Linked DNA regions of Homo sapiens: all the other regions are linked to region 2. The links come from fine-mapping of genetic effects on gene expression. A gene starts in region 2. Each other region holds a variant in brackets. All regions are shown on one strand. Distances are between the middles of the regions.

Region 1 (5,479 bases), 170 kb after region 2:
GAGATCCTGTCTCAAAATTTTAAAAAAGCCTCTAATTCTGTAAGAATAAAGCTATAATTTGTTGAATACCTGATTGAGTCTCATTAAATTTCTCAACAAAAGGTCTGAAATTAGGATACCCCCTCCCAAACCCATCTTTTACAACCAAAGAAAGCCTAATTATCAGATAGGTTAATTGACTTCCCCAAGGTCACTTAGTTACTTGCAGTTAGACCTGGGATTCAAGCCTGTTTGACTTCGAAGCCCATTCATTTTACTCTGCCACTACCAAATGGAATGAGTTTTTATAGGGCCCTGTAGGCAGTGGTTTGGTATAGTGAAAAGGCATTGGCTACAGTCCTGAACCTACCACCTAAAAACATACTTCGGGCCAGCCACTTAAGCTTTCTGAACTTTAGTTTCCTTGTATGTAAAATGAGGGTGCTGTTTCTCACCTTGCAGAATTGCCATGAGGATGGAATGATGGAAGCTAAGCATCCAGCATTCTGCCAGCCCACAGTGGACCTCAGTGAAGGAAAGGTGTCCTGTCTATTACTCCAAGGCCCTGGAAGGGCAGTGCTATCATTGCAGTAGGCCAATACAGCTGCCACACACTGACCCTCTTCCTTTGTTCCTTCTCAAATACAGGTCACCAAAAACAGTGGCATCATCCCTGGGCCAGATTCCAATGCAAAGGCAACCCATTCAGAAAGACTCAACCACCTTGGAAGACTAGAGGTGATTCTGCCCAGCATCCCATATTGGGCCAGCCATGAGCCAGCTTCCCGTGACTGCTCAGCCCTTGGCTCCCTCTTGCTCGTTGTTCTCACCAGGAAAGTACACGGGCCTGAGGCAGGATTGGGCCACAGACAGCCTCTCATTGGTCCGGGCTAATTCACTCCTGCTGCTCCCCTTTGGCAGGGGTCCTGTAGGTCATGACAGGGGAGGCAAGGGTATTGAGAGACTCGGGGTCTCGCGGGGTGGTAGTTTGGAGGGTGGCTTTCCCCATTTCCCAACCCCTCTGGGCCTTAGGTGCTGAGGCCCCTGCCACCTGTCTTTCCTCTAAAGGTCAGTTTTGGGCCAGTTCTTGCAACTAAAGAGCAGAGATCTCTCTGGGCCCTAGACATTTCCAGCAAAACCTGGAACTTTCATGCCAAACCTGGGGCAGGGCAGGAAACAGAGGAAATGGCTGCAACATGGGAGCTTGGAGCTAATACGACACTCTGCCTTCCCCCAGAAGGTGCAGGCTTTCCTGAGTCTTAGACCAGATATGGCCAGTTGCGCAGGTTTCTGCCAACTGTGAAGTATCCTCCTGGAGCAGTGACACAATCTTGGCGGAGCATTGCTACCCCCGCTGCCCCCTCCACAGTTCCTGAATGGTGCTAAGGATCTGCAGCAGTTGGCAACGAGCTGGGGCTGGGGGCGGCCTCCATGTCCACTGAGATCATAGGACACTCCAATGGGGATGGGACCTTTCCCCTCCTCCATCAGAGGTGCTCTGACCCTAGGTTACACGGGAAAGTGCCCCACATGCAAGTCTCCCTGAGGGTTCTGCCCCTAAAGGCAGACTGCCTCATGCCCGCTAGCTGTGAGGTTCATTGCTACCCTCGGCCCTACTAGCCCTCTCTTCCCCCTTGTGCAGCGGACCACTTGCCCAGTTTGCTGTGGTGCTAGCCTTCCCCATCATCCACCGGGTGATTTCTGGGTCCCAGGGAAAGAAAGAGAGAGCTGATGCAGGTTTCTACAGTGAGGAACAGGCGTTTCCCAGGCCCCACACCCAGATTTCTCTATCTTTGCTGTGTTTTATGGCCTGGGACTGAGTCCACACGGATAGATTTTTCCTTGTAACCTTGAGACGAGAATTCCAAGGAGTGTCACCATCAGAGGCTTCTCTTCATTGTGTCAAAGAAGCCCCTAGCTGCTCTCGTGGCCTCCTTCCCCCACTCCCTATCCCTTCACCTGTGAAATGCCTTTGCTTTGCATATTGTGTGTGGATGTGTGTGTGTGTGTGTGTGTG[T/TG]TTGTGTGTATGTGTGTGCTTCTGTGTGTGCCTAATGCTCTGTCTCTTGGTCACTGAAGCATCCAAATAAAGAATTTCCCTCATGGGCCAGACTACAACTTAACAGACCTAGGGTTTTGAGCCATATTGCCATTGGATCTAGTATGTCTGTCTTGACCCCTCACCCCCACCCCATTCAGACCTCAGTAGTCCCCAGTAGTCACTTTAGGAGTTGGGACAGAGTCGAGCACCCTGTGAAAGTCTCCCTTGAGTTCAGGTGCCCTGAACTCAGTACAGCCTCATCTTCTCATCCACCACCTTCTCCTGCTTCTCCTGTCACATAGGGCCTCATGAAGGTCTTTAAAGGGTTTAAGCTGGGGATCTGCTTTATGTTTGAGAGAACTGTTCTGGCTGTTATGTAAAGGAGTGCAGGGAGGGGCAGGAAAGGAGACAAGGAGGCCAGTATGGACACTGTGTCCAGTATGGCTTTCCAGGCTAATCACTTAGGGCAGAGACCCAGCCTTATTCATCTCTACTTCCTGATGTCCATAGTGGTGTGTCATGAATTTTTATTGAATGAACAAATGAGGTGTATGAGGAGAGATGGTTTTCTCCTGCTCAGCTCTTACACAGTGATAGGTTTGTTCCATGGGACTTATCATAGGCCTGGTGATTCTTGAAAGAGCATTTTTCATGACTCAAAAATGAGCTGAGAAGGAGTGTTATGGCCAGGTGCGGCGTCATGCACCTATAGTCCCAGCTGCTCAGGAGGCTAAGGCAGAAAGACCATTCAAGCCCAGGAGTTCCAGCCTGAAGTATGCTGTGATCATGCCTGTGAATAACCACTGCACTCCAGCCAGGGCAACATAACAAGACTCTATCTAAAAAAAAAAAAAAATTATAAAAATAAATTTGAAGGCTGGGCGCCGTGGCTCACGCCTGTAATCCAAGCACTTTGAGAGGCCAAGGCAGGTGGATAACCTGAGGTCAGAAGTTCGAGACCAGCCTGGCCAACATGATGGCAAAACCCCGTCCCTATAAAAAATACGAAAATCAGCTGCGCCTGGTGGCACACATCTGTAGTCCCAGCTACTTGGGAGGCTGAGGCAAGAGAATTGCTTGAACCCGGGAGGCGGAGGGTCGCATTGAGCCAAGATCGTGCCACTGCACTCCAGCCTAGGTGACAGAGTGAGACTCCTGTCTCAAAATAAATAAATAATAAATTTTAAAAGAAGGTAGCCAGGTGTGGTGGTGCATTCCTGTAGTCCTGGCTACCTGGAAGGGTGAGGCAGGAGGATCGCTTTAACCATGAGTTCAAGGCAGCAGTGAGCTATGATTATGCCACTGTACTCCAGCCTGGACAACAGAGCAAGACCCTGTCTCTAAAAATAATAATTTTTAAAATTTAAAAAAAGAAAGGAATGTTATGGCCTCAAGAGCTCTTTGTCCATCCTTTACTGTAGACAGCCAGATTTGAGGAAGGGGCCCAGGCAGCCTCAGCTCCCATTCAGTGCCACTCAGCCCCTGCTCCTGGTCAGCTGTGAAAGGCTCTACACAGCCCCAAGGGAGGTTCTCAGCTTCCCATGATCAGACTGCCTCAGCAATTCCCCAGAGTCCTTCTAAGCCACCTAGTATGTCAGATTCAGCCCCATCTACCAAGCAAGGAAATGAAGGGCAGGGGGTGAGTGGGCTATCATACCGTGAGCCTCCGGCCTGCAAGACCACTTTGTAGTCCCTACCAGCTGTGTGGCCAGCCCTGTTGGTAAAGGGACCTAGAGATGAACACTTTCTTGCCCTTAGGGGTTCACACACAGTCAAAGATCATGATGACAATGATAAGAATGCCCAGGATGCAGGAGCTGACTCAGCCAAGGGCATGAAAAAGCTGGAGAGGTTGGAAAGCTAGCATTTCATCTGCATAACAACCTTTGAGCTAAGAGTTAATATTCCATATAGAGAAGGAGGCCAGGCAGGGTGGCTCACATCTGTAATCCCAGCACTTTGGGAGGCCAAGGCGGGTGTATCACTTGCGGCCGGGAGTTTAAGACCATCCTGGCCAACGTGGTGAAATCCCATCTCTACAAAAAATAAAAAATAAAATAAATAAAAACCATGGAGAGAAGGAACAAGGCTGAAAAAGGTATCATGATTTGCCCAAGGTCTTGCCTCTAAGAAATGACAAAATGGAGAGTAGAATCCAGTTCTCTAGACTTCCTCTGGAACCCTTTATGAGTGAGGACCAGAGTACCTCCCACATGGCCCCTGCAGCCTGCCTCACCCATCTCCTGTCAGTGCCATGGTCTCACAGGGTGAGCAGCCACTCAGGGCAGGGGCAGCACCCACAAAACAGATGAGACAAGGCTCAATGTTTATATTCCAAGTCCCTCCATTTTTCTCATAATTTTGTCCATTCCCATGATCCCAGTGTAGTAGACTCTAATTATTAAAGTGTTAGAAACCCAAATCAAAGCGATTAGCTAAAAAGGTAAATGTATTGATTCACTTAATGAAAAATCCACATACAATGATAGCTGGACCCAGACTCGGAGATGGTCTCATCAGGAAGAATTGTCTATCCCTCTGCTTTCCTCTGTGTGCCCTTTCTCAGGCAAGCTCTCTCCAAGAGGTGCCAAGGTGGCCACTGGCAGCCCCAGGCTTCTATCCTGATACGTTAGTAACAACAGTGGAAAGAACACCTTTCTCCACTAGTTCCAACAAAATATCTGGGATTGCCTCAACTGGTTTAGTCCTGTTCTCATCCCTGAATTAATCATTGTGGCTAGGGGAAAAGGCACTCTGATTTGGGGCCTGGGTCATGTGCCTAAAGCTGAGTCAGCTCCACCTAAAACATTGAGAGAGGGAGTGATACAACCCCAAAAGAAGAAGGTTGTAGGGCTCTTTCCAGATTAAGGGGGAATGGATGCAGGGGGAGGGGGACAAAAACAACTGTGCACTATACCCAGAAATTGTTTAACTGTTTCCTTTTTTTCTCTAACTTTTTGAGGTACACCATACATTCAGTAATGTGCACCAATTTTAGACTTCAGTTTGATGAATCCTCACTTACATGTATACATTGGGGCAGTCACCCTCCAGATCAAGATACAGAACATTGCCAGGTCCCTAAAACATTCCCTCATTTCCCCTCCTAGTCAGTATCCCCCAGAAGCAACCACTATTTTGACCTCGATCATTATAGATTAGTTTTGCTTGCTCTTGAGTTTTATAAAAATGGAATCATACATTTTGCACAATATTAGTTTGTGGAATTCACCCATGTTACTGTATGTCTCAGAAGTTCAGTTTTTTTTTTTCAGCCAGGCGCAGTGGCTCATGCCTGTAATCCCAGCTCTTTGGGAGGCCGAGGCGGGCGCATCACTTGAGGTCAGGAGTTCCAGACCAGCCTAGCCAACATGGTGAAACCCTGTCTCTACTAAAAATACAAAAATTAGCTGGTCGTGGTGGTGGATGCCTGTAATCTCAGCTGCTCGCTGAGGCAGGAGA
Region 2 (5,512 bases):
AGTATGATTAGCACAGGCAGTGAGCAAGATGGCCACATGTAATAGATGGACATGCTGCTGTGGTTGGGAGGTCAGGGACATGCTAGAGGCTTGGAACAAAGAGGGAACCAAAGACCTGCCAGAGAAGCAGGCAGGCTGGAAAAGGGACAGCCATTGTGCCAGGCTAAGGCACATGAATTTCATCCTGAAGGCAACAGGGGTCATGGACAGGGGTGGATCTGTGCTTCAGAAAGGGGTTCCACTAGTGACCTGACCTTGGACGTCATTTATGACTTCTTTGAATTTCAGCTTCCATCCATAAAACAGGAGGAAATAATATCTACCCTCACAAGGTTGTTGTGAGCACTAAATAGAATAACACCTGGGGAAATGCTTTATGAGATGTAGTGTGCAACATAAACATCAGGTGGGTTTTAACAGTGAAGTGATGCAGAGCAGAAAGAGCCCTGTACTCAGAGGTGGGAACCCTGCTCTCCACAAGGCAGCTGCACCCCATCTCAACCTCCAGGCTTTTCATCTGTGAAATGGGACCAACATGTATCAAAGGGTTGTGTGGGGCAAATGAGATCACGAGAGCAAAGGAACTTGCTCAGATGTGCATTCAGATTTATGTAGTTGAATCTGAACTGAAACTCTATGATTCTCCATTTCCTCTATAACATGAAAAGCTCAGTTCTTGTGAGGATTAAAGGAGTTAGTGGTCCTTTGCACACTGTAAGGAACTGTAGAAATGTCAGATACTTCGCTCATCCGAGCTGGAGGTGGTATTGCTGTTTCCATAGTCCCAAGGGAGCCCTCAGTGAGTCAGGTGCTCTTTAGGGGTGGGGGAAAAGGGAAACACAGCAGAGGGCCCAATATGGGAAGAGACATCTGTCCACTGAGTCACTTTACCTCCCTTCCTTGCAACAGCAGAACTTCTGGAAATATAGTACCTTCCCACCCCTACACTCCCCTCCTTGCCTACTCCCACTATGCTCACTAATTTGCCCTCCACGTGGTCACTGGTGACCTCCTAACTGCCCAATCCCAAGCCTTTTCCTCAGTCCCCACCTCTGCTGCCCTCTCTCAGGCATGCAAAGCCAGTAGTCATTCTCTTTGCTACAGAATTCCCCCTGTCCTTGGCTTTCACGGCCAGTCTCTCCTAGGTCTCCTTCCTGAGTCTCTCGTAGTCTTCATCAGTAATTTCTGTTCCTTCAGACAATGGGGTTCCCAAGTTTCGGTCATGCCCTCCCTCTACACTCCCTTTATCTCGCCCATTCCCAAGGTTTCATTAATAGCTGTGTCAGGGCTCCCAAATCTACCTTTGGCCTCAGCCAAATCCTAAATCCCAGTGGTCTGTTAGACATCACTATCTGGATGGTGGAGAAGCTCCTCAAATTCAACAAAGCCATACTCATTTTTCCATCACCTTACCCCCACAAAGCTCTTCTGTTCTCCACCTTGACTGGAGACATCGAAGTGTGCTCACTCACACGGCCGTTCGGGCTGCCTGCGCGCATCCCTCACCCTCACCTCCTCTATGCAATTGGATCTCAGGCTCTCTAAGAGCTCTCCTCTGCATCCCCTCCTCCCCATTCCCACACACTGCACCAGACCATCCTCCGGCCTGATTATTACAACAGCCTCCTAAACTGATAGCTCTGCTTCTAGTTTCTTCACCTCCTTACCCCACCCAACTTGATCACCTCTGCACTCATGGCCGGCACAGGGTCTGGTATAGGTATGTGCTAATGTGCCTTTCCAAAATTGGAAGCAAGGGGAGTGGGTAGTTTTTTATTTAATAAAGCAACAAATCAGCTTCTGATAAATCTCCCCAAACCATACATACCTATGCTGAGTTTCCAAATCTGTCAAATAGGGGTGTGGAATTCTTGTTCTATGCTGCAGGTCTATTTCAAGGATAAAATGAGGTAACTGGGGCAATTACCTTCGAAAAGGACTAAGGGCTACACACGTGTCTTTCTCAAGGCCCAGCTAGTTCATTTATTCATTCACTCACTCATTCATTCCCTCATCCATTCAATATTTATTCAGCATTTTTACATGACAGAATCTGTGAAGCAATCCCCAAGTAGCCCTAATATTTATATGCTAGGTAAATGTATTCAGCTCTGTCTCTTCCCACTGAGATTCCCTGTGGGGAGGGACATGTCTCCTTCACTGCAGTATCCCCAGAGCCCAGGGTCTGTTTGCCTAAGGGCCCCGTGGCTTCCCTTAGCTGAATGGGCTACACGAAGTGAGTTTTCCTCCTGAAAAGTACCCCAGGGACCTCTACTGATGTTGGGAGCTGCCATCGAGAACCAGCTGGCAGGCTGGGTGTGGTGGCTTGCACCTGTAATCCCAGCACTTTGGGAGGCTGAGGCAGACAGACTGCTTGAGCCCAGGAATGTGAGACTAGCCTGGGCAACATGGCAAAACGCCATCGCTAGAAAAAAATAACAAAAATTAGCTGGGTGTGGTGGTGTGCGCCTGTAGTCTCAGCTACTCCGGAGGCTGAGGTGGGAGGATCACTTGAACCCAGGAGGTCAAGGCTGGAGTGAGCCCTGACTGTGCCACTGTACTCCAGTCTGGGTGATAGAGAGAGAGACCCCATCTCAAAAACAAAGAAAGAGAACCAGCTGGCTTAATCTTTCCAGTGTCCACTTCCCCTGGTGTGAGCCAAACAGGAGGGATGAGGACAAGACAGCTGTGGAAGGAGCAGGCAGTAATTAGACCGAAGTGCTTACCTGGGACACAGAGAAGCTAGTCACTCTCCTCAGGTCTGAGCTCTTGTCTGGCAATATGAGGCACCCCAATGACCAAAAGCAACACTCAGGGGTGACCCGAGTTATAATATCCTCAAGCCCCACCCTTTTCCTCCACCACCACTTACCAAACATCAGCTAATTCAGGAAGCTGCACTTCCTTCCAAGCCTGCCCTAAGAGTAGCCCAGGCTAGGCAAGGCTGTGGTGAAAACTTGAGCAAGATGATTACCGCGAAGTGGAGCGTTGAACTGGGTCTAAGATTTTGGGCCATTCCCTCTACAATGCTGAGGGCTGTTTATTTTGCAAATATAGTGAGTTCTGAGGTGGTGGCTCGCCCCTAGAAGGAGCTGGAGGCGCCTAGCCTGGAAAGGTTATGGTAAGTACTTTTGAGCAAGAGGCAATGTGGGAGCACAAGCGGAAGGGACTGACTCTGCCGAGAGTGGGCAGGGCTAGCTGAAGAAGCTGAGTCTTGAAGAAAGAACAGCAGTATGCTGACAAAAGTGGTCCTTGACAAAGTGGAGAGCATGTGCACAACCACAAATCACACACACACAGCAATGAGGTGCAGCTCCAGGCGCCTGAAGAGGGTACACCAAGGTAGGAATATATAGTGGGAGAGGAGGTGACAGGCAGACTGCGGAGTCTAGCCTTTAGTCTGTAGCCTGCGCAGGGAGAGTAGGTTCACATCTTAGGTCTTCTCTACTGGAAGAAGGGGAGTGTTAGGCTGCTGTGGAGCTATTGGCGAACAAGCTGTTTTTCTGTGGGAATTTCTCCTCAAAGGCACAGAACCTTGGGGCACCAATGTAGAATACTAGACAGCCTGCAACAATCTTTGTTGAAGGCATGGATACACTTTAAAGCTTCAGGCTGCCTTGTCAGCAGTAACTCTATCCACAGATAGTAGGCCTCCACATGACATCAGGATGGAGACCAGAGATAGTGGCTCCTCTATCAGTAGTGGCATGAAGAGGCCAGGAAACATGCCAAACATCAGTCCTGCTGTGAAGTTTACTGGGTACCAACCAGGCATATAGGCTGTGAAAGGCAGGGAAGTGGGGGATGGGGTGGCAGAGGGTAGAGTGGCTGTCACAAACAACACAGCATCCTGCCTAGCCTGGGATCCCAGTCCCTTTCAACTTTGTTCAGTTGGGAGAGGAGAATGTGGAACTGACTATGAAAGGCCCAGCTGTGATTCATGCAGATAGCCTGCCATTTCTTGAGCCAGGGTGAGGATATGCCCCTGACAAGCATGGCCAGGGCTCTTCATCTGCGTTTCTGGAAGGTCTGTGTCCAGACCCCAGGAGCAGGGGTCCTGGTTCCCTAGTCAGAATGCCAGGGAAAGTCTGGGTCAAGGCCAGTGGAGGGAGAAGGATGGCTGAGCTTGAGGTCTGTGAGCAGCTGGGACAGCCTGGCTGTAGCAGAGGCACTGCAGCTGCCAGCGGTTCTCTTCAGACACCAGATGGCCACTGACCAACAAAGGGAAGGACAAGTCCTCACGAGGTTCCCTCATAGCCCCTTAGTGCCAATCTCCAACTGTAGAGATGGAGCTAAGGAATGAGGAAAGGCAGTTTGCTGGGGGAGAGGTGGGCACAACCAGAGCACTGCCGATGGGCTGGGAGGTCAGGCCTTCCCTCTGCGCTTGCTCACAGGCTTCTCACCACTCACAGTGCCCATGCCAGGCACAGAGATCCTCAATAAGCTCCCCCAATTTGTTCCACACCCTTTATACCGTGAATGTGCCTTGCAGCTCTCCTACACACATCGAGCTACTTCTGTTGTGTCTTTGTTTGCACTGACTTGTCTGGAATGACCCTCCCTTTGGCCTCTCCCACCTTTTCACCTCATTTTTCCTCATCCCTTAAATTATAATCATCAACGACAATGAGGAGCCCTTCTCTGAAAAGCTCCTCCTGGCCGACCCCAGCTGAGTGTGGTCTGCTTATTGGTTCCGTATTATGATGCATGTTCTTGTATCACTGCATTTATATCTGTTTATTAAAGGCATCTGTTTATGTGTTCTTCTTCCCCATTGTACTATGGGCTCCCAGAGAATGTTTCTTATTCACCCGTGCAGCCTCAGACCTCAGTTCTTTATCTGGCAAGGAACAAGTATCAATTAATTTTTGTTAAATTGAAGAGCCCTCCCACAATCTCAATAGTCCACGGCTGGCCAAGCATGATGGCTCACGCCTGTAATCCCAACACTTTGGGAAGCCGAGGTGGACGGATCACTTGAGGTCAGGAATTCATGATCAGCCTGGCCAATACAGTGAAACCCCGTCTCTACTAAAAATTAAAAAAATTAGCCGGGCGTGGTGGTGTGCACCTGTAATCCCAGCTACTCGGGAGGCTGAGGCAAGAGAATTGCTCGAACCTGGGAGGCAGGGTAAGTTGCAGTGAGCCGAGATCACGCCACTGTACTCCAGCCTGGGTGACAGAGCAAGACTGTCTCAAAAAAAAAAAAAAAAAAAAAAAAAGTCCAGGGCTTTTGAAACTGAGAGGAAGCAAGCAAGCTCTTACTGTCTTCCTGGTGCATATGGTTTCAGCAGTCTTTCCACTAGTCCATCTTTCCACTGACAACTACAACCCTCTCATCCACTTACTACCTGCCTTCCCCTCCCCAAATTCCCATCTGCTAACAACCTAAGGCCAAAGCTACCCTGATTCACAGGCAAAAATGAGCTCATCCAAACCTGAAATTTCCCTTGAGTCATTAGTTTTGTGACTGAAATGAGAAGTAGGAAGTAGTGTGCTATAGTACAGAAAG
Region 3 (5,547 bases), 180 kb after region 2:
TACCTGGATCCAGCTATGCCTGAAGCTAATATCCCCCAGGACTTTTTAGTTATGACTTTTCTTTAAGTCAGTTGAGTTTCTATAACTTGCAACCAAGATTTCTGCCTAATACTTGCTCCAGCTCCCCTTGTCAACCTGGGGACCTCCACTCATCCAGAGATCACTGGCCCCCAAGGCCAAGTTGGCTGCCCTTTGTGTTCCCAGATGCCCTGTGTTCCCCTCTAGCATAGCCCTTAATATGCTGTGTTACGATGATCTAATTCCCTGTCTCTTCTTTTAGACTAGAAACTGCTTGAGGGCAGGAATTGGGTCTTATGATACTGCATCCCTGGTCCCTAGCATAGGACTGTGCTTATGTTTTAATAACTGCTTGGTGATTGAATACATTAATGAATAAATGAATAAAAATGGGTATGGTCTGGTAGGGACCATTGCTGGGATTTCACAGGAAAGACATTTATTTTGTTTGTTTTTTGAAACAGCGTCTCACTCTGTCACACAGGCTGGAATGCAGTGGTGCAAACACAGCTCATTGCAGCCTCGACCTCACTGACTCAAGTGATCCTCCCACCTCAGCCTCCCGAGTAGCTGGGACTACAGGCGCACACCACCACACCCAGCTAATTATCTTATTTTTTGTAGACACAAGGTCCCACTGTGTTGCCCAGGCTGGTCTTGAACTCCTGAGCTCAAACGATCCTCCCACCTCGGCCTACCAGAGTGCTGGGATTGCAGACGTGAGCCACCGCACCTGGCCGGAAAGACTTATTGAGGGAGATGATCCTCTAGTGGTCATGAAGGTCAAAGGAGCCAGGTTGCTGGGGTGGGAGGAGGCTTAGTGAAAGGAACTAGAAGAGGCGAGTTGTGGAACACAGTTGATTGTTTCAATAATGGCCTCCCATGAATCATTGCCTCCCTGTGCCTGTGTCCTTTTGCAATGTGACTTTATCATTGCTCCCATCAAGATCGGGCGGGCGGGGGAGGGGGGGGGTCCATTTCCCAGTCTCTTGAATCTGAACTAGTCTTGTGAGTTGCTTTGATCAGAGAATTCAGTAACATGACTGTACGACTTCCAAGGTTAGGACTTAAGTGCTCATGCAGCTTCCGTTCCTGACCCTGTGAAAGGAAGTTTGGGCTAGACCATGTGGCGACCACAGACCAGGTAGAGAGAGAAGCCAACAGCCAGCTCCATACATGTGAGGGAGGACATCCCAGACCCTCTAGCATAGCCAATCCACAGCATAAGCAGAACTGCCACCTGAGCCCAGCTAATCACAGAATTGTGAGAAATAATACATTGTTTTAAATAATTAAGTTTGGGAACAGTTTGTGCAGTAAAGGCTCACAGAATCACTAGGTATAATAATCAGAAGCTTCCTAGTGTCTGTTTACCCTTCTTCCTATAATAAGCTTTTCTTTGAAAAACCCCACCCTCAGCTTATGTAGTCCGGGTGGGGAAGACCTCCACTCTCCTGGCTTTTGCCAGAACAGTTGAGAAGTTGCCAAGTGGGAATGTCTCGAGCCCAGAGCTGTTAGTGGCCTTCTTTGTCACTTCTTAGGGAGCACCTGTCATAGAGAAGAAGACAGAAGAGAGAATGAGTTTTGACCATACTGTTGGGAACCAGGATCAAGCTGTTTCTGGAGCCTGATTCACACCAGGACTTACAGTCATGCTCCTGTAGTCCCAGCTACTCAGGAGACTAAGGCAGGAGAATTTCTTAGGCCCAGGAGTTCACATCCAGCCTGGGCAGCACAACAGACCTCATCTCTTTAAAAAGTGCATGAGCCAGTACATTCACTATTTTGTGTAAGCAGGTTTGAATTTGAGTTTCTGTGTCTTGCAACTGAATGAAAACGTTCGCTGAGAGCCAGAAAAATTGATAGAGGCTGAGCAGCTCCAGGGCAGAGGGCAGTTAGGTCAGACAGAGGAGGGATTCCTGGCCGGGCAAGTTGGCTCACACCTGTAATCCCAGCACTTTGGGAGGCCGAGGCGGGCGGATCACGAGGTCAGGAGAACGAGACCATCCTGGCTAACACGGTGAAACCCGTCTCTACTAAAAATACAAAAATTTAGCCGGGCATGGTGGTGGGCATCTGTAGTCCCAGCTACTCGGGAGGCTGAGGCAGGTGAATGGCATGAACCCAGGAGGCGAAGCTTGCAGTGAGCCGAGATCGCGCCAGTGCACTCCAACCTGGGCGACAGAGCAAGACTCCCTCCGTCTCAAAAAAAAAAGAATTTTTTTTAAATAAAAATAAAATATATCTACATTTTGGCCGGGCATGGTGGCTCACGCCTGTAATCCCAGCATTTTGGGAGGCCAAAGCAGGTGGATCATGAGATCAGGAGTTCAAGACCAGCCTGGACAACATGGTGAAACCCCGTCTCTATTAAAAATACAAAAAAAAACTAGCCGGGCATGGTGGTGGGTGCCTGTAATCCCAGCTACTCATGAGGCTGAGGCGGGAAAATGGCTTGATCCCAGGAGGCAGAGGTTGCAGTGAGCCGAGATGAGTAACACTGTACCCCGGCCTGGGCGACAGAGCCAGACACCGTCTCAAAAAACAAACAAACAAAAAAATCTACACTTTTTAATACTCCTCCCTTCAATAGGTCAAGTTTAATTTCTACCCTATATCCCCTAATATGGGCTGTAAGTAGCAATTCACTTTACTTACTGATTGATTGATTGACTCAAGGTCTTGCTGTGTCCCCCAGGCTGGAGTGCATGGCACAATCATAGGTCACTGCAGCCTCGATCTCCTGGGCTCAA[A/G]CAGTCCTCCCACCTCAGCCTCCTGAGTAGCTGGAACTACAGGCATGCGCCACTGTGCCTGGCTAATTTTTTTTTCCTTTTTTTTTGAGACAGAGTTTCTCTCTTGTCGCCCAGGCTAGAGTGCAGTGGTGCAATCTCGGCTCACTGCAAACTCTGCCTCCTGGGTTCAAACGATTCTCCTGTCTCAGCCTCCCAATTAGCTGGAATTACAGGCACCCGCCACCACGCCCAGCTAATTTTTGTACTTTTAATAGATACAGGGTTTCACCAGGTTGACCAGGCTGATCTCGAACTCCCAACCTCAGGCGATTGACCTGCCTCAGCCTCCCAAAGTGCTGGGATTACAGGCGTGAGCCACCACGCCCGTCTGGCTAATATTTTTTATTAGGGTCTCACTCCGTTGCCCAGGCTGGTCTCAAACTCCTAGGCTCAAGGAATCCTCCTCGCTCAGCCTCCTGAAGTGCTGGGATTATAGGCGTGAGCCACTGTGCCTGGCTGTGACTCACTTTTAACTAATAGAATAAGACAGAAGTGACAAGAATCTGATGTCTGAGAGTAAGTTATACATTACATTGCAGCTTCAATATTTCTCTCTTGGATCACCAGCTCTGAGGGAAACCAGCTAACGTGTTGTGGGAACACTCAAGCAGCCCTATCAAGAGGCTGTTGTTGAGAGAAATGTAGGTCTTCTACCAATGACAAAGATTCTTTGGTTGGCCAAATTTTAGTCAGGCTTCTGAGCCTTCTCCTAGGTCCATCTGTGCACTTCCTTGTAAAATCTAGTTTTAGCAAAGAACCTGCTAAGTCTAGTTTAGCAAGAACTGCCGCCCATCTTCGATATCTGATCAGGTTCCTCCTCCTCCACCATCCCCCAGGTGATGGCTGATGGGCCTGTCTTCAGCAAGAATCCTGTTGGGTCAGTTTGGACAGAACCCCTTTACCCCAACGTTTCCTCTTAGTCATTTTCCATTCACTGCTCCCCACTCTGTTCCTTGGCTCAGAATTCCCACTCGCCCATGCTGTATTCAGAATGGAGCCCAATCTCTCTCCCCCTCTGCAAGATCCCATTGCAGTGGTCCCTGTGACTATCTCAATGGTCCTGAATAAAGTTTTCTTTACTGTGCTTTAATAAGTATCGTTGAGCCGGGCGTGGTGGCTCACGCCTGTAATCCCAGCAGTTTGGGAGGCTGAGGTGGGTGGATCATTTGAGGTCAGGAGTTTGAGACCATCCTGGCCAATATGGTGAAACCCCGTCTCTACTAAAAATACAAAAATTAGCTGGGCATGGTGACAGGTGCCTGTAATCCCAGCTACTTGGGAGGCTGAGGCTGGAGAATCGCTTGAACCCAGGAGGCGGAGGTTGCAGTGAGCCGAGATCACGCCACTGTACTCCAGCTTGGGCGACAGAGCGAGACTCTCAAGAAAAATAAATAAATAAACATAAAAACAAGTATCTTTGAATAATTTTTTCTTTAACACCAATAGTCAGCCAAATATTTGTTATGTAAAGTCGTTAAGTTTAAAAGTAATGTGTTATGAAGCAATGGATAACTAATACAGGTCTTTTTCCTAAAAGCCATGGAAATTTATTAAAAGGTTTTAAACAAATAGCAGTGAAAACAGGATGAATTTGCTGCCATGTAAACAAATGAGTACTATGGCCAAAGAGCCAACAGAGGAGAGTGGAGACACAAAGGAAGGGTGTTCTACTGAGAAGGAGCCTTTTATTTATAAAGGGTTTAAGAAAAAGGATTAGCCGAAGAAAAAATTATTTGGTTCACATAGTGAAATGTTCAAAGAAGGAATGGCTTCAGGCAAGGCTTGATCCGGGTGCACTCCAGCTCTTGGCCCTCTTGTTTCCTTTATTGCTGTCTTTCACAGAGAAGCTCTCCCAAGCAACTCTAGGCATCCCTATTCACAGCTCAGCTTCTCAGAGAGTTGGTTTCCTATTCATTCCAATAAAAGACCTAGACTGGCTCCCATTGGCCCTCCCATGGTCACATGCTCATCTCTGACTTAATCACAATGGCCTGGGAGATGGAATATTCTCCTTAGCCAGGTCTGGGTCACATGTCCACCATAAATGCCAAGGAGGAGTGTTGGTTTCATCCAGTCCCCCGTGGACTGCTAGTAGGGGAGGACCACGACATCAAGAAAAGTTTGAGGGGTCGTTACCAGAGAGAGGAAAAGGGTTTTAATGTCCAGTTTAGGGTGGCCAGGAGGGATCTGAAAGAAAAAGGAATGCCTGGCCAGGCGCGGTGGCTCACGCCTGTAATCCCAGCACTTTGGGAGGCCGAGGCAGGTGGATCACCTGAGGTCAGGAGCTCGAGCCCAGCCTGGTCAACATGGTGAAACCCCATCTCTACTAAAAATATAAAAATTAGCTGGGCATGGTGGTGAGTGCCTGTAATCCCAGCTACTCGGGTGGCTGAGGCAGGAAAATTGCTTGAACCCGGGAGGTGGAGGTTGCAGTGAGCTGAGATTGCACCACTGCACTCCAGCCTGGGCAACAGAGCAAGACTCCATCTCAAAAAAAGAAAAGAAAAGAAAAGGGAATGCCTGAGAGGAGTCCAGAAATACCTGCTGAATGGCAGGTATCTGGTAGAATGCCTGGAAAGCGGGGAGGACAGATAGGCAGGCCAGAGGAAGAATGCTCAGCAACAAAGGCAGCATAAGCAAAGACGCCACGGTGTCAGCCAGTCAGGCACATTCAGAGGCTCTACCTGGAGCTCACTGCAGCTGCGAAACAGCAGGTGTCTTGGGGGAGACTGGAGCT
Region 4 (5,547 bases), 110 kb after region 2:
AGGGGGCTGGAGGTACAAAATTGGGAGTGGACAAAAGAAACCTTAATATATCTGTAATGCTCTGATTTTATTTTAAGAACCACTACTGGGCCAAGTGTGGTGACTTATGCCTGTTATCCCTGTACTTTGGGAGGCAAAGGTGGGGAGATCACTTGAGCTCAGGAGTTCGAGACCAGCCTGGGCAATATGGCAAAACCCCATCTCTACAAAAAATACAAAAATTAGCTGGACTTGGGCTTGCACCTGTAGTCCCAGCTACTCGGGAGGCTGAGGTGGGAGGATAGCTTGAGCCCGGGAGGCAGAGGTTGCAGTGAGCCACCAAGGTTGTTCCACTGCACTCCAGCCTGGGTGACAAAGCAAGACCCTGTCACAAAAAAAAAAAGAAGAAAAGAAAAAAAGAACCACTACTGTGTAATTAAAAATGAATAAACTATAAGCTGGGCACAGTGATACATACCAGTAGTCCCAGCTACTCAGGAGACTGAGGTGAGAGGATTACTTGAGCCCAGGAGTTCAAGGATGTAGTACACTATAATCATGCCTGTGAATAGCCACTATACTCCAGCCTGGGCAACATAGTGAGACTACATCTCTATAAAAACATTTAAAATTTAGCTGGCTATGGTGGTGTGCACCTATAATCCCAGCTACTCAGGAGGCTAAGATGGGAGGATCCCTTGACCCCAGGAGTTCCAGGCTGCAGTGAGCTATGATTGAGCCACTGTACTCCAGCCTAGGCAATAGAGTGAGACCTTGTCTTTAAAAAAGTAATAATAATAATAATAATAATAAACTCTTAGAAGAAAACATATGGGAAAATCTTCATGACCTTAGATTTGGCAATAATATATTGAATATGACATCAAAAGCACAGGCAACACGGTGAAAAGAGTTCTGGAGATGTGTTGCGGGAAGTCAGGGACCCCAAACGGAGGGACCGGCTGGAGCCGTGGCAGAGGAACATAAATTGTGAAGATTTAATTTTTTTTTTTTTTTGAGACGGAATCTCGCTCTGTTGCCCAGGCTGGAGTGCAGTGGCACAATCTCAGCTCACCGCAAGCTCTGCCTCCTGGGTTCACACCATTCTCCTTCCTCAGCCTCCCGAGTAGCTAGGATTACAGGCGCCCGCCACCACGCCCAGCTAATTTTTTGTATTTTTAGTAGAGATGGGATTTCACCGTGTTAGACAGGATAGTCTCGATCTCCTGACCTCATGATCCGCCCGTCTTGGCCTCCCAAAGTGCTGGGATTACTGGCGTGAGCCACCGCACCCTGCTAGGGAGATTTTCTACATCCTGGTGACTGGCATCCAAATCTGTTTTTCCTGTCCTGGTTCCTAGCATCGAATCTCAATTGCCTACTTGACTTTTCCACCTGTTATGTCCCACATAAAGTTAAAACCCAGAACATTCACAACCAAATTTATGATCTTCCCCTCAAAATCTGTATATTTAACACATTATTTGTCTCTCTTAGTGACATTACTATCCACTCTCCCTCAAGCTATAAGCCTCCTAGACCACCACCACAAAGCCCCTCTCCCCACAGATTCAATGGGTCATGGAGTCTTACTGACTTCGAAACTGACTTCAGGGCCAGGCGCAGTGTCTCACACCTGCAATCCCGGCACTTTGGGAGGCTGGGTGGATCACTTGAGGCCAGGGGTTCGTGACCAGCCTGGCCAACATGGAGAAATGTTGTCTCTACTAAAAATACGAAAACTAGCCAGGCGCGGTGGCAGGCACCTGTAATCCCAACTACTCGGGAGGCTGAGGCAAGAGAATCACTTGAACCCAGGAGGTGGAGGTTGCAATGAGCTGAGATCGCGCCACTGCACTCCAGCCTGGGTGACAGAGCTAGACCCTGTCTAAAAAAAAGAACCCAAAAACCACACAAAAAGAAACCACACTGAATCAATGAAAAAAATAAATTATTCCATAATGATATTCAAAAAAGTAAAAACTCATTTGTGCCCATTCAAAGTAGATGTTTAAACAAGCTCTTACCTTAAAAATCAGTAAGGCAGGAGGATTACTTATGGCCAGGAGTTCCAGACCAGCCTGGGCAACATTGTGAGACCCCCATCTCTACAAAAAATGAATAATAAAACTAGCCAGGCTTGGTAGTATGTGCCTATAGTCCTAGCTACTTTGGAGGCTCAGGCAGGAGGATTGCTTGAGCCATGGAGTTTAAGGCTGCAATGAGCTATGATCTTACTATTGCACTCTAGCCTGGGTGACAGACGGAGATCTTGTATCAAAAAAAAAAAAAGGGCCAGGCACAGTGGTTCATGCCTATAATCTTAGCACTTTGGGAGGCTGGGTGGATCAGCTGAGGTCAGGAGTTCGAGACCAGCCTGGCCCACATGGCTCTACTAAAAATACATAAATTAGCCGGGCTTGGTGGTGCACATCTGTAATCCCAGCTACTTGGAAGGCTGAGGCAGGAGAATCGCTTGAACTCAGGAGGCGGAGGTTGCAGTGAGCTGAGATCATGCCACAGCACTCTAGCCTGGACAACAGAGCA[A/C]GACTGCATCCAAACACACACACACACACACACACACACACACACACACACACAAAGATACTTTCTGATCATAAGAGAGGAAACTTATTTACATAATGGAAGGTTTAAACTACCATTACCCTAATCCGGTGGTCAATTTAGCTTCACTTGGCGAATTAATCAGATATGATGTTATTATGTTCTTCAGATGCTACACAACATGAATCATGCAACATCTCCAAAGACGTATTCTAGCCAAAATATTTGACTTAAATACACCAAGTGTTTAGATATAACTTCCAGTTAAAGGAAACACAGCCAATAGAGATACAAGCTAAAAACCACAAGGAAAAAAGCAACCAATGCTTCTCAAACTACAGCACTTACACTATGATTTATTACAGCCAAAGGATACAAAGCAAAATCAGCACCTGGGATGAAGTCCAAAGGAAACTGGGCACAAGTTTCAAGAGTACCTTCCCAGTGGAGTCACTTAATTCCTCCAGCATCTAATTGTGACAACATTTGTGAAGTGGTATCTACCAGGGAAACTTGCCTGAGCCTAGGAATCCAGGGTTTTATCAGGGGTCAGTTACACAGGCTGCCTAGCTTACCACTCTGCCTAGTGCAAACCAAAGTTTCACACTCCCAGAAGGAAAGTAGATGTTCAGCATAAACTATATTGTTTGCACAAACAGTTTAGACTCAGTGAGCCACTTTTTTTCTTTTCTTTTTTTTTTTTTTTTTTTTGAGACAGAGTTTCGCTCTTGTTGCCCAAGTTAGAGTGCAATCTCAGCTCACTGCAACCTCCACCTCCCCGGTTCAAGCGATTCTCCTGCCTCAGCCTCCCAAGTAGCTGGGATTACAGGCGTGCAACACCATGCCCGGCTGATTTTTTGTATTTTTAGTAGAGACAGGGTTTCACTATGTTGGCCTGGCTGGTCTCGAACTCCTGATCTCAGGCAATCCACCTACCTCGGCCTCCCAAAGTGCTAGGATTATAGGCATGAGCCACTGTGCCCAGCTGCAGTGAGCCACTTTTATATGGAATTTGGAAACACTTCTGAAATCCAAGTTCCCAGATGCCAGCCAAAAGCCAAACTTGAGAGCAGACCTTTCAAAGGTCTACTATAGCCTCAAACCTACTATGTTAATTCTTTTCTGCACAATATGTAATGCTGTGGTTGAAACTTGGGGTGGAAGTTGAATGAGTTTGTCAAATGGACAACAGGAGATGGTAGAAGGACATTAAAGGTAATATTGGAAGGCTGAGGCAGGAGAATCGCTTGAACCTGGGAGGGCAGAGGTTGCAGTGAGGTGAAATCACAGTACTTCACTCCAGCCTGGGTGAAAGAGCGTTAACTCCATCTCAATAAATAAATAAATAAATAAAGGCAATGGGAATAGAATGAATAAAGGCAAAGGGGTGTGAAAGGATTCCCCAGTTGGAGAACCTACCACAGTGCTAAAGTTCATCCAGCAGGGCTTGGTACTTGAGAGAGTATTGGAAGTGGGTGGAAAAGGAAGTAGAATATACTGGGTCTCTTATACCACGTGACATTTTAACTTTATCCGGTAAGCAACAAGAAGCCATTGAAGTACTGCAGGTAAGAAAGGAGTATAGACCAGGCACGGTGGCTCATGCCTGTAATCCCAGCACTTTGGGAGGCCAAGGAGAACAGATCACCTGAGGTCAGGAGTTTGAGACCGGCCTGACAAACATGGTGAAACCTCATCTCTACTAAAAATACATCAGTATGTTAAATTATCAGAAAAATATAGCTTTTGGAATAAACTACATAGCTACCATTTACTATGTGCCAAGCAATGTGCTAAGTAGTTTACGGAGATTATATTAGTTAATCTTCACAACAACCATTTGAGGTGGGTATCATCTCCTCATTTTACAGATGGAGAAGCAGCCTCACAAATGTTAAGGAATTTACCTAAGATCACATAACTCATGCATGCAGAATGGAGCAATACATGTCAAGCTAAGTACCACACAGCGTTAACTGCTCAATTCTCAGAGATTTGTGGTTAATCCCCAGCCTGCTTGCCTCAGACATTGTCAGGGTTCAAGATATGACGGCTATCTGTTGCAGCTGGACTCTCTTCCTGATATGGCTCTGGACATACATCCCTCCAGCTCCAAGGGTGGCCCAGCGGGGCATGTAGAGTGGCTGGAATTCCCAAACTGTCACTGCAGTGATGAGGAGGAGCAACCTTATCTGTTTACTCTAACATGCTATACAGATATGCTCATTTTCTATGTGGACTATAATGGAGAAAAGGCTGGAAAGCATTACTTGACTCTAACCCAAAATCCTCTGTAAATCCCAGTCTGTGATCAACAGACTCCCCTCTGCCCTCAATCTGTCCTTAGAAAGTCTCTAAATTAAAACCTGGCATCCCCTGAAGACACTGCTTCCCTGCGTCCCTAAAGATACCATAAAATTAGGCCAGGCATGGTGGCTCACACTTGTAATCCCAGCACTTTGGGAGGCTGAGACAGGCAGATCACTTGAGGTCAAGAGTTCGAGACCAGTTTGGCCAACATGGTGAAACCCTGTCTCTACCTAAAATTAAAAAATTAGCCAGACGTGGTGGCGCACATCTGTAATCCCAGCTACTCAGGCAGCTGAGACAGAATCACTTGAACCCGGGAGGCTGAGGGTGCAGTGAGCCGAGACCACGCTACCACATTCCAGTCTGGGCAACAGAAGAAGACTCCATCTCAAAAAAGAAAAAAAGAGGCAGGACGCGGTGGCTCATGCCCATAATCCCACCACTTTGGGAGGCCAAGGTGGGGGGATCACCTGAGGACAGGAGTTTAAGACCAGCCTGACCAACATGGTGAAACCCCGTCTCTACTAAAAATACAAAATTAGCCAGGCATGGTGGCTGGTGCCTGTAATCCCAGCTACTCAGGAGGTTGAGGCAGGAGAATCGCTTGAACCTGGGAGGCAGAGGTTGCAGTGAGCCGAGATCATGTAATTGCCCTCCAACCTGGATGACAGAGCAAGACTCCATCTCAAAAAC

Which allele goes with the higher level. Positions count from the first base shown, and alleles are read on the strand shown. Sizes are in standard deviations (SD) of each study's normalised expression. Not every link is listed here.
In carriers of allele TG in region 1, the expression in macrophages of the gene that starts at base 2,806 in region 2 tends to be higher than with T alone (large effect, 0.85 SD a copy in Alasoo 2018).

The links. PIP is the estimated chance that this variant, and not a neighbour inherited with it, causes the effect. A credible set is the group of variants that fine-mapping cannot tell apart.
Region 1: its variant is the best candidate, but not a certain one, in a credible set for the expression of HK3 in macrophages (Alasoo 2018, PIP 0.66).
Region 3: its variant is the best candidate, but not a certain one, in a credible set for the expression of HK3 in whole blood (TOPMed, PIP 0.53).
Region 4: its variant is the best candidate, but not a certain one, in a credible set for the expression of HK3 in whole blood (TOPMed, PIP 0.73).

What each region holds. Positions count from the first base shown.
Region 1 is chr5:177,063,885-177,069,363 of GRCh38, forward strand. It overlaps ZNF346 (zinc finger protein 346), which reads left to right. Exons shown (of 7, transcript NM_012279.4): 7 at 628-4,101. The coding sequence ends at 715. Among named protein-coding and RNA genes, the nearest start is that of FGFR4, 20 kb to the right of the region's middle. The variant T/TG (reference allele first, on the strand shown) is at 1,997.
Region 2 is chr5:176,896,541-176,902,052 of GRCh38, forward strand. HK3 (hexokinase 3) reads right to left here and starts at 2,806. Exons shown (of 19, transcript NM_002115.3): 1 at 2,727-2,806. RefSeq lists an enhancer at 3,626-4,127.
Region 3 is chr5:177,072,847-177,078,393 of GRCh38, forward strand. It overlaps a transcript of ZNF346 not described here. Among named protein-coding and RNA genes, the nearest start is that of FGFR4, 11 kb to the right of the region's middle. The variant A/G (reference allele first, on the strand shown) is at 2,772.
Region 4 is chr5:177,010,823-177,016,369 of GRCh38, forward strand. It overlaps a transcript of UIMC1 not described here. Among named protein-coding and RNA genes, the nearest start is that of UIMC1, 6.8 kb to the left of the region's middle. The variant A/C (reference allele first, on the strand shown) is at 2,527.